2 linked regions of the Homo sapiens genome follow. The gene in region 1 interacts genetically with each later gene. Each region holds a gene or a part of one and is shown on either strand. Other genes may lie near its edges. The genes, in order: PXN and KEAP1.

Region 1 (3,808 bases):
CACTTGGTCACTGTTCCACTCACGTGGTGAGTGGGAAGAGCAGTGTCTGGTTGGGAAGGGTCGACTGCCCCAATTCCATTCCATCCCCTGGCTCCCTAAGCCCCTGCCAGCTAAGTTCCCTCTGTCCCCCAGCCTCCTTGGCCTTCCCAGCCACTGTCCCCGCCTCACCTGCTGGTGGATGAATCGGGAGCTGCTGGGCTGCCACTGGTCTAAGGGGTCAAGGATTGTGCCATTGAGGGCCTCGCTGGACGGGGGTGGGGGGACGGGGGGTGGCACGGCAATCTCCTGGTATGTGTGGTTTCCAGTTGGGTATGAGTAGGGGGTCTCCTCCGACAAGAACACAGGCCGTTTGGAGATGTGGGAGGTGGTAGACTCCAAGTCCGCCAGCAGGGCGTCTGCAAAGAGAAGGCACGGGTAGCAGGTGAGAACCGGGATCCTGGGGACTCTCCCGTGGCAGGGCCCTCCCTGCCTGCACCTCAAGAGTTAATGCCTTCTAGCACCTGCCCCACCCATGGGAGAAATGACCAGCCTTGGGACAGGAAGCCACCAGCCCCGACCAGCCTAACCAAGAGCCGGCTCCCAAAGCTAACTTCTTCTGGCCACCCAGGACTGAAAGTGCTCTAGAGGCGGGCTCTGGGGCTGCCCTGTGGGATCTCCTACCTCTGGGAGTCAGGCACCTGGCACTGCGTTCCCTCCTGACAGGGCCGCGCAGCCGCGAGTGAAGTGCCTGTCTGGAACTCTGAATCTGCAGGGCAACGCGGAGAGAATGGGCGGGAGGGGCCCCACGTCACAGGGAGGGGCCCTGGCTATGCCAGGCCCTCACTTGATTTCTAAGAGCTTAGGCTTTCCCAGCCCCCGACTGGAAGGGGCACTCAGGATGGTCCCTGCCCTCCTAACCAGGTGGAAGCAGAAGCCCAGGCTCCAGGTTCCTCCTGAGGCTCTAGGCTTATGGGGTAAGGTGTGCGGGGAGGTGGGGGCTGGAGTGAGGCTGGTGCAGCGGTCCCCACCCCCTCAGTGAGCAGGGGGCAAGACTGCTCCATTGGCTGTTTCTGCGGAAGTCTGGCAAGCAGCCCGGCCCCAGAGGCTCCAGGCCCCCACTGTTCTGCTTTTAACAGCGGCAAGGGAGCCAAATCAGCCCTCTAGTGTAAGCTTCCATTACCCTGGCACCTGGCAGCCAACAGGGGGGCACTAGGTCTCCCCAGTCTCCAGAAAAGAAGGGTATAGAAGGGCAGGAGTAGGACCTGCTGACCCCCACTTCCTCCATCCCCTCCTGGGACCCTCAACAGCCCCACGGCTCAGACAGCCTGGCCCTGGATGCCACACCCTCATTCCTGCCCCGTTCACAACTTGCTTGCTCTCAGCTCCCCGGTAACCTGCTGGGTCCAGGGAGCTGACAGCTTGATCCCTAGCCCTCAGGATAATAAACATCTAAAAAGCAATGGCTGCGTTTATTGCCACTTATCAGTAGCAGGCAGACTGCTAGGCATTCTAGCAGCATGTACGAGGTCTCCGTTAATCCCCCTAATACCCCCTGTAGCTGGAAATGATTCTCCCCGAAGCGATGAGGAAAGCCGGGCTTGGAGAGGCAGAGGTCAGAGGTGTTTGCTCCAAATAACAAAGCCAGTGAGTGGCACAATTGTCTGACTCCTCAGAAGCCCCAAACCCCAAAAACCTGGCCTGTAAGAGGCCACTATGACTACCAGATGATGCCATACTTAAAGGGTTCAACTTCCTGAATGTTGGAGGCCCAAGCTGTGAGGCCTGCCAGTGTGATCCTTCCTTGTGGCCTTGCTCCCAGTCCCCCAACCTGTGTTCAGAGGAGGGAATAGAGAAGCAAGGCCCTCACCCAGGGCCTCGGTCTATGGGGCCACACCTTGTCCCAGCTGCCTGTCCTGATCTCCTACCCTCAAGGCTGGCCACACCTACCCCATGCTCCTGCCCAGATGGACAGAGGGGATGTCTGTTCCAAGGCCCAGGACCCCGGGTCTGGTCGCCTGACCTCCAAGGAAGTTCAGGTCCTACAGCCCGCCCCGCCCTCCGGGTCCCATGGAGGAGGCCTGGCTTCCTGTCTCTAGCAAACCGGAACTAGAGGGAGTTGGTAGGTATCTAGGTAACGGCAGAAAAGGAACCAGTGTCCAGGCCAATCCCCACGGCCTCTCCAGGGCCACACCTGCTGTCTTGGCTTCACGCAGTGTCCTCATTTCCTCTGGGCCCAATCAGCAATGGGTGGATCCCTCTTTCTCCACCATGGGCAGGGCCAGCTAAGAAACCCCATAGGACTCCCCAGAGCAGGCAACGAATGAGTGCAACCCCAGTAGGGGGCAGGAGCAGCTGCCATCCTTGAAGGCCCACTGGGGCCAGGAGCTTCACCTTTGTTACCTGCCATCCTCACAACGCCACCAGCACAGATGGTATAACTGCGGTTCAGAGGCAGAGTCACATCCCACACTGCCAAGGCTGGATGAAGTGACAATGCTGGACTCTGATCTCAGGTCTCTTGGACTCCAAACACCCAACAGAAGACAAATGGTCAGGCTTCCTTGTCAAACATTTTGAATCAGGGACTCCACCAAACACCCGCTCCACCACAATGTGATTCTAAGCCTGGGCTTTTGGTTTATGGATTGGATTCAGGTTTACAATGTCAACAGGCTCTTGGGAGCACAGATCCCTAGGCTGGTGAAGTATTGGTGAGAGGATGCAGTCCTGGGGCACAGAGACACAAGATCACTCATTCTGAGGTCGAGCCAGACCTGAGTTCAAGTGCCAGCTCCCCTCTCTACCATCCATGCCACAGGGCAAATCGCTTAGCTTCTCAGGGCCTGTTGTCTCAGTAAGCTCTTGAATAACTCTGACCTCAAAGTACTGGTGTGAGGTTTATAAGGGCTAGCAGGTACACTGGAAGCTGCAGACATCAGTTGCAAATATCAGGCTCTCCAGACCCAAGTCACTCTGCAGGAGGAAGCTCCATAGCACATTGGAAGCTACAAACATCAGATCTGATTTGCTCTGTAAAATCCAGAATAAGGTCTTCCTCCAAGGAGAGCAGTGTAGGTAGGATGCAAAGTACTAACTTCTTCTAAGTCTCCTAAGTCTTTTCTGGGTAGAATATGAGCAAACCATGAAAAGGGCAACCTTGAAAAGAAAAGAAAAGTAATAAAGTAACATTCAAATTGTAGCATGTCCCAGCCTGGGCAAAACAGTGAGAGCCTGTCTCTACAAAAAATTTAAAAATTAGCTGGGTGTGGTGGCGCATGCCTATAGTCCCAGCTATTCAGGAGGCTGAGGTGGGAGGATCACTTGAGAACAGGAGTTGGAGATCGGCTTGGGCAACACAGTGAAACCCCATCTCTACAAAAAATTTAAAAATTAGCTGGGTGTGGTGATATGCGCCTGTAGTCCCAATTACTCAGGAGGCTGAGGCAGGAGGATTGCTTGAGCCCAGGAGGTCAAGACTACAGTGAGCTACAATTGCACCACTGCACTCTAGCCGGGGTGACAGAGCAAGACCCTGTCTTAAAAACAAACGAACAAATCATAGAGTGCAGATGTCAGGGAGAAGGCACATCATTATTCAGTTTTCTCCAAAGTTTTGTCTATTTGAGGGACAGAGAAAAACCCCAGCAAGTCCATCCACCAGCCACAGGGTCTCTGGTATGGCTTCCTCCTCTCTCTCCACCCTTCATTCTCACCTAGTGATTTGGACAGGCAAGGACTAGGCAAGAGGGGTAGGGGTTGGTGCCTCCAAACCCCCCACAAACTCCTCAAGAAAGAAAACCAGAAATACAGGAGGCAAGCCAACAGTAGA
Region 2 (3,808 bases), on another chromosome or scaffold:
GTCAAAGAGGAGTGTGTTTCAGAAGAAGAGCCCTTTCTGGCCCCCGGTTTCAGGCCTCCAGCCCAGAGCCAGGGTGAAAGACACTAGTTAGTCTGTTCTTTATTTTCCTTGGAAAATTACAGGGTTACTTATCAACAAAATAACTGTCCATCCGGTGGGGAAGTGCCATCCGGTGGCTTCTATGTACAGGCCCATCCCTGGGAACCACATTTCCAGAGGGGGCCTCCCCCTGAGGCCCCCATTGGCCCCCTCCCAGGTATCCAAGAATAAATCACATGGTGACAGCTGCCGGCATGGGTGAGTGGGACCCAGGCCTATTACCCGGCCAGAGGGTTTGGGGGCCTCTCTCCTGGAAGCCTGCTCTTTCCACACCCCCTTTCCCAGCCAGGCTGTCTTGGACACTCCCGGGGCTCCGCTGAGGGGCACATGATTCCCGCTTTGGACTTCTTTTGAGATGTCATTTTAACACTGAGGCATCCTGGCCTCCCTTCCCGGAAGATGGGTTATTTGCAGTGCTGTCTTTTCTTTTAGTCCCGGTTTTTGTACAAAAACAATGATACTCCCCATTGGACTGTATTTTTGCCCAAGAAACAAAAGTGCCTCAACAGGTACAGTTCTGCTGGTCAATCTGCTTCCGGCAGGGCTCCATGGTGACAGCCACGCCCACCCCACTCCGGCCCGATGTCATTCGGGTCACCTCGCTCCAGGTGTCTGTATCTGGGTCGTAACACTCCACACTGTCCAGGAACGTGTGACCATCATAGCCTCCTGCGGGAAGAACAGAAGGGATGGTCACCACCTGTCACACCACATCCAAGAGCAGGGGACAGAAAGAGAGAGATGCAGCTGTGAGATGCAAAAGCAGGCCGGGCGTGGTGGCTCACGCCTATAATCCTAGCACTTTGCAGGGCTGAGGCAGGAGGATTGCTTGAGGCCAGGAGTTCGAAGCCAGCCTGGGCAACATAGCAAAACCTTAGTCTCTTACTAAAAAAAAAAAAAAAAAAAAAAAATGGCCAGGCTTGGTAGCTCACGCCTATAATCCCAGCACTTTGGGAGACTGAGGTGGGTGGATCACTTGAGTCCAGGAGTTTGAGACCAGCCTGGGCAACATGGTGAAGCCCCATCTCTACAAAAAAACATAAAAATTTAGCCAGGCTTGGTGGTGCGCGCCTGTAGTCCTAGCTATTAGGGAGGCTGAGGTGGGGAGGATCAGTTGAGTCTGGGAGGCAGAGGTTGCAGTGAGCAGAGGCTGCACCACTGTACTCTAGCCTAGGCAACAGAGTGAGACCCTATCTCAAAATAAATAAATAAAAATAGGAAAATAGGCCACTCGCGGTGGCTCATGCCTGCAATCCCAGCACTTTGGGAGGCCGAGGCGGGCAGATCACCTGAGATCAGGAGTTCGAGGCCAGCCTCGCCAACAGAGTGAAACCCTGTATCTACTAAAAATACAAAATTAGATGCGATTGGTGATGCACGCCTGTAATCTCAGCTACCTGGGAGACTGAGGTAGGAGAATCGCTTGAACCCGGGAGGCGGAGGTTGCAGTGAGCTGAGATTGTGCCACTGCACTCCAGCCTGGTGACAGAGCAAGACTCCACCTCAAAATAAATAAATAAATAAATAAACAAAAAATAAAAAAATAAAAATAAAATAAAATAAAGGCCGGGCACAGTGGCTCATGCCTGTAATCCCAGGACTTTCGGAGGCTGAGGCAGGTGGATCACCTGAGGTCAGGAGTTCAAGACCAGCCTGGCTAACATTGTGAAACCCCGTCTCTACTAAAAATCAAAATTGGCCGGGCATGGTGGCTCACACCTGTAATCCCATCCCTCTGGGAGGCCGAGGCGGGCAGATCACCTGAGGTCAGGAGTTCGAGACCAGCCTGACCAACATGGAGAAAACCCTTCTCTACTAAAAATACAAAATTAGCCGGGCGTGGTGGCGCATGCCTGTAACCTCAGCTACTCGGGAGGCTGAGGGAGGAAAATCGCTTGAACCTGCCAGGTGGAGGTTGCAGTGAGCCGAGATCGAGCCATTGCACTCCAGCATGGGCAACGAAAGTGAAACTCCATCTCAAAAAAAAATTAGCTAGGCGTGGTGGCACGTGCCTGTATTCCCAGCTACTCAGGAGGCTGAGACAGGAGAATCACTTGAACCTGGGAAGCAGAGGTTGCAGTGAGCCAAGATTGCGCCATTGCACTCCAGCCTGGGCAACATGAGCAAAACTCTGTCTCAAAAAAATAAAATAAAATAAAATAAAAATAAACAAAAACATTAAGCTGGGCGCGGTGGCTCACACCTGTAATCCCAGCACTTTGGGAGGCTGAGGTGGGCAGATCACCTGAGGTCAGGCGTTCAAGACCAGCCTGACCAACATGGTGAAACCCCATCTCTACTAAAATACAAAAATTAGCTGGGCATAGTGGCAGGCGCCTGTAATCTCAGCTACTTGGGAGGCTGATGGGGGAGAATCACTTGAAACCAGGAGGCGGAGGTTGCAGTGAGCTGAGATCGTGCCATTGCACTCCAGCCTGGCAACAGACTGAGACTCTGTCTCAAAAAACAAAACAAAACAAAACAAAACAAAAAACAAAACAGGCCGGGCGCGGTGGCTCATGCCTCTAATCCTAGCACTTTGGGAGGCCGAGGCAGGTGGATCACGAGGTCAGGAGTTCGAGACCATCCTGGCCAACATGGTGAAACCCTGTCTCTACTAAAATACAAAAAATTAGCCTGGTGTGGTGGCATGTGCCTGTAGTCGCAGCTACTCAGGAGGCTGAGACAGGAGAATCGCTTGAACCCAGGAGGTGGAGGTTGCAGTGAGCTGAGATCATGCCATTGCACTCCAGCCTGGGCAACACTGTGAGACACCATCTCAAAAGAAAAAAAACATTAGCCGGGTGTGGTGGTGCGCGCCTGTGGTCCCTGCTACTTGGGAGGCTGAGGCAGGAGGATGGCTGGAGCCCAGGCTGTTGAGGCTCCAGCGAGCTGTGATCACACCACTGCACTCCAGCTGGGCAACAGAGCGAGACCTTGTTTCTAAAAAAAAAAAAAAAAAAAAAAAAAAGGAAAGCAAAAGCAAAAGCAGTCCACAAAAGATGGGCTAGTCAGGACTCTTCCCCGCCCCCAGGGCCTCACCAAGGACGTAGATTCTCCCCTGGTGGACAGTGATCCCCAGGGCACTTCGCCGGTGCTTCATGGGGGCTACGAAAGTCCACGTCTCTGTTTCCACATCGTAGCGCTCCACGCTGTTCAGCTGGTCCTGACCATCATAGCCCCCAGCAGCATAGATACAGTTGTGCAGGACGCAGACGCCTAAAGGGCACCATGCAGAGAAGGTGACTCTGGGGGTCTGGCTTTGGGAACCCCAGCCATCACCTCCTTGAGGGAGACCTTTCCTCTCTCCTCTCCCTTCTCACCCTCAGAAATGAAGCGGGGAGAGAGAGAAGCTTGGACTCTATCAGAATCCAGGGCTTCTGTGGTTACCCCAGCATGAGGGTTGCAACAGGGGGTCTCTCCCAGGCCTGGCTCAGTTTCACCCCAGGATGGTAGGGGGTGTTCCTGGGTGCTCCCCTCCCTACCGTCCCCACCCACCTGCCCCGCTTCGGATGGTGTTCATTGCTGTGATCATTCGCCACTCGTTCCTCTCTGGGTAGTAACACTCAGCTGAATTAAGGCGGTTTGTCCCGTCAAAGCCCCCCACGGCATAAAGGAGACGATTGAGGACAGCCACGCCCACCCCGATCCTTCGTGTCAGCATTGGGGCCACCAAGTGCCACTCATCCCGCTCTGGCTCATACCTGCA

Evidence for each region.
Region 2: changes in PXN (region 1) and KEAP1 together harm fitness more than expected from each alone (negative genetic interaction), as found in Homo sapiens cells (one large-scale study listed by BioGRID).

The regions. Positions count from the first base shown.
Region 1 is NC_000012.12:120,223,983-120,227,790, forward strand, and holds part of PXN (paxillin), read right to left. Parts: intron 3,136-3,808; exon of another isoform or gene 2,387-3,135; coding exon of another isoform or gene 2,371-2,386; exon of another isoform or gene 2,202-2,370; coding exon of another isoform or gene 2,171-2,201; intron 1,440-2,170; exon of another isoform or gene 396-1,439; coding exon 169-395; exon of another isoform or gene 1-168. UniProt on the Homo sapiens protein: Cytoskeletal protein involved in actin-membrane attachment at sites of cell adhesion to the extracellular matrix (focal adhesion). Recruits other proteins such as TRIM15 to focal adhesion.
Region 2 is NC_000019.10:10,486,051-10,489,858, forward strand, and holds the end of KEAP1 (kelch-like ECH-associated protein 1), read right to left. Parts: intron 3,804-3,808; coding exon 3,598-3,803; intron 3,319-3,597; coding exon 3,142-3,318; intron 769-3,141; coding exon 602-768; 3' UTR 75-601; downstream 1-74. UniProt on the Homo sapiens protein: Substrate-specific adapter of a BCR (BTB-CUL3-RBX1) E3 ubiquitin ligase complex that regulates the response to oxidative stress by targeting NFE2L2/NRF2 for ubiquitination.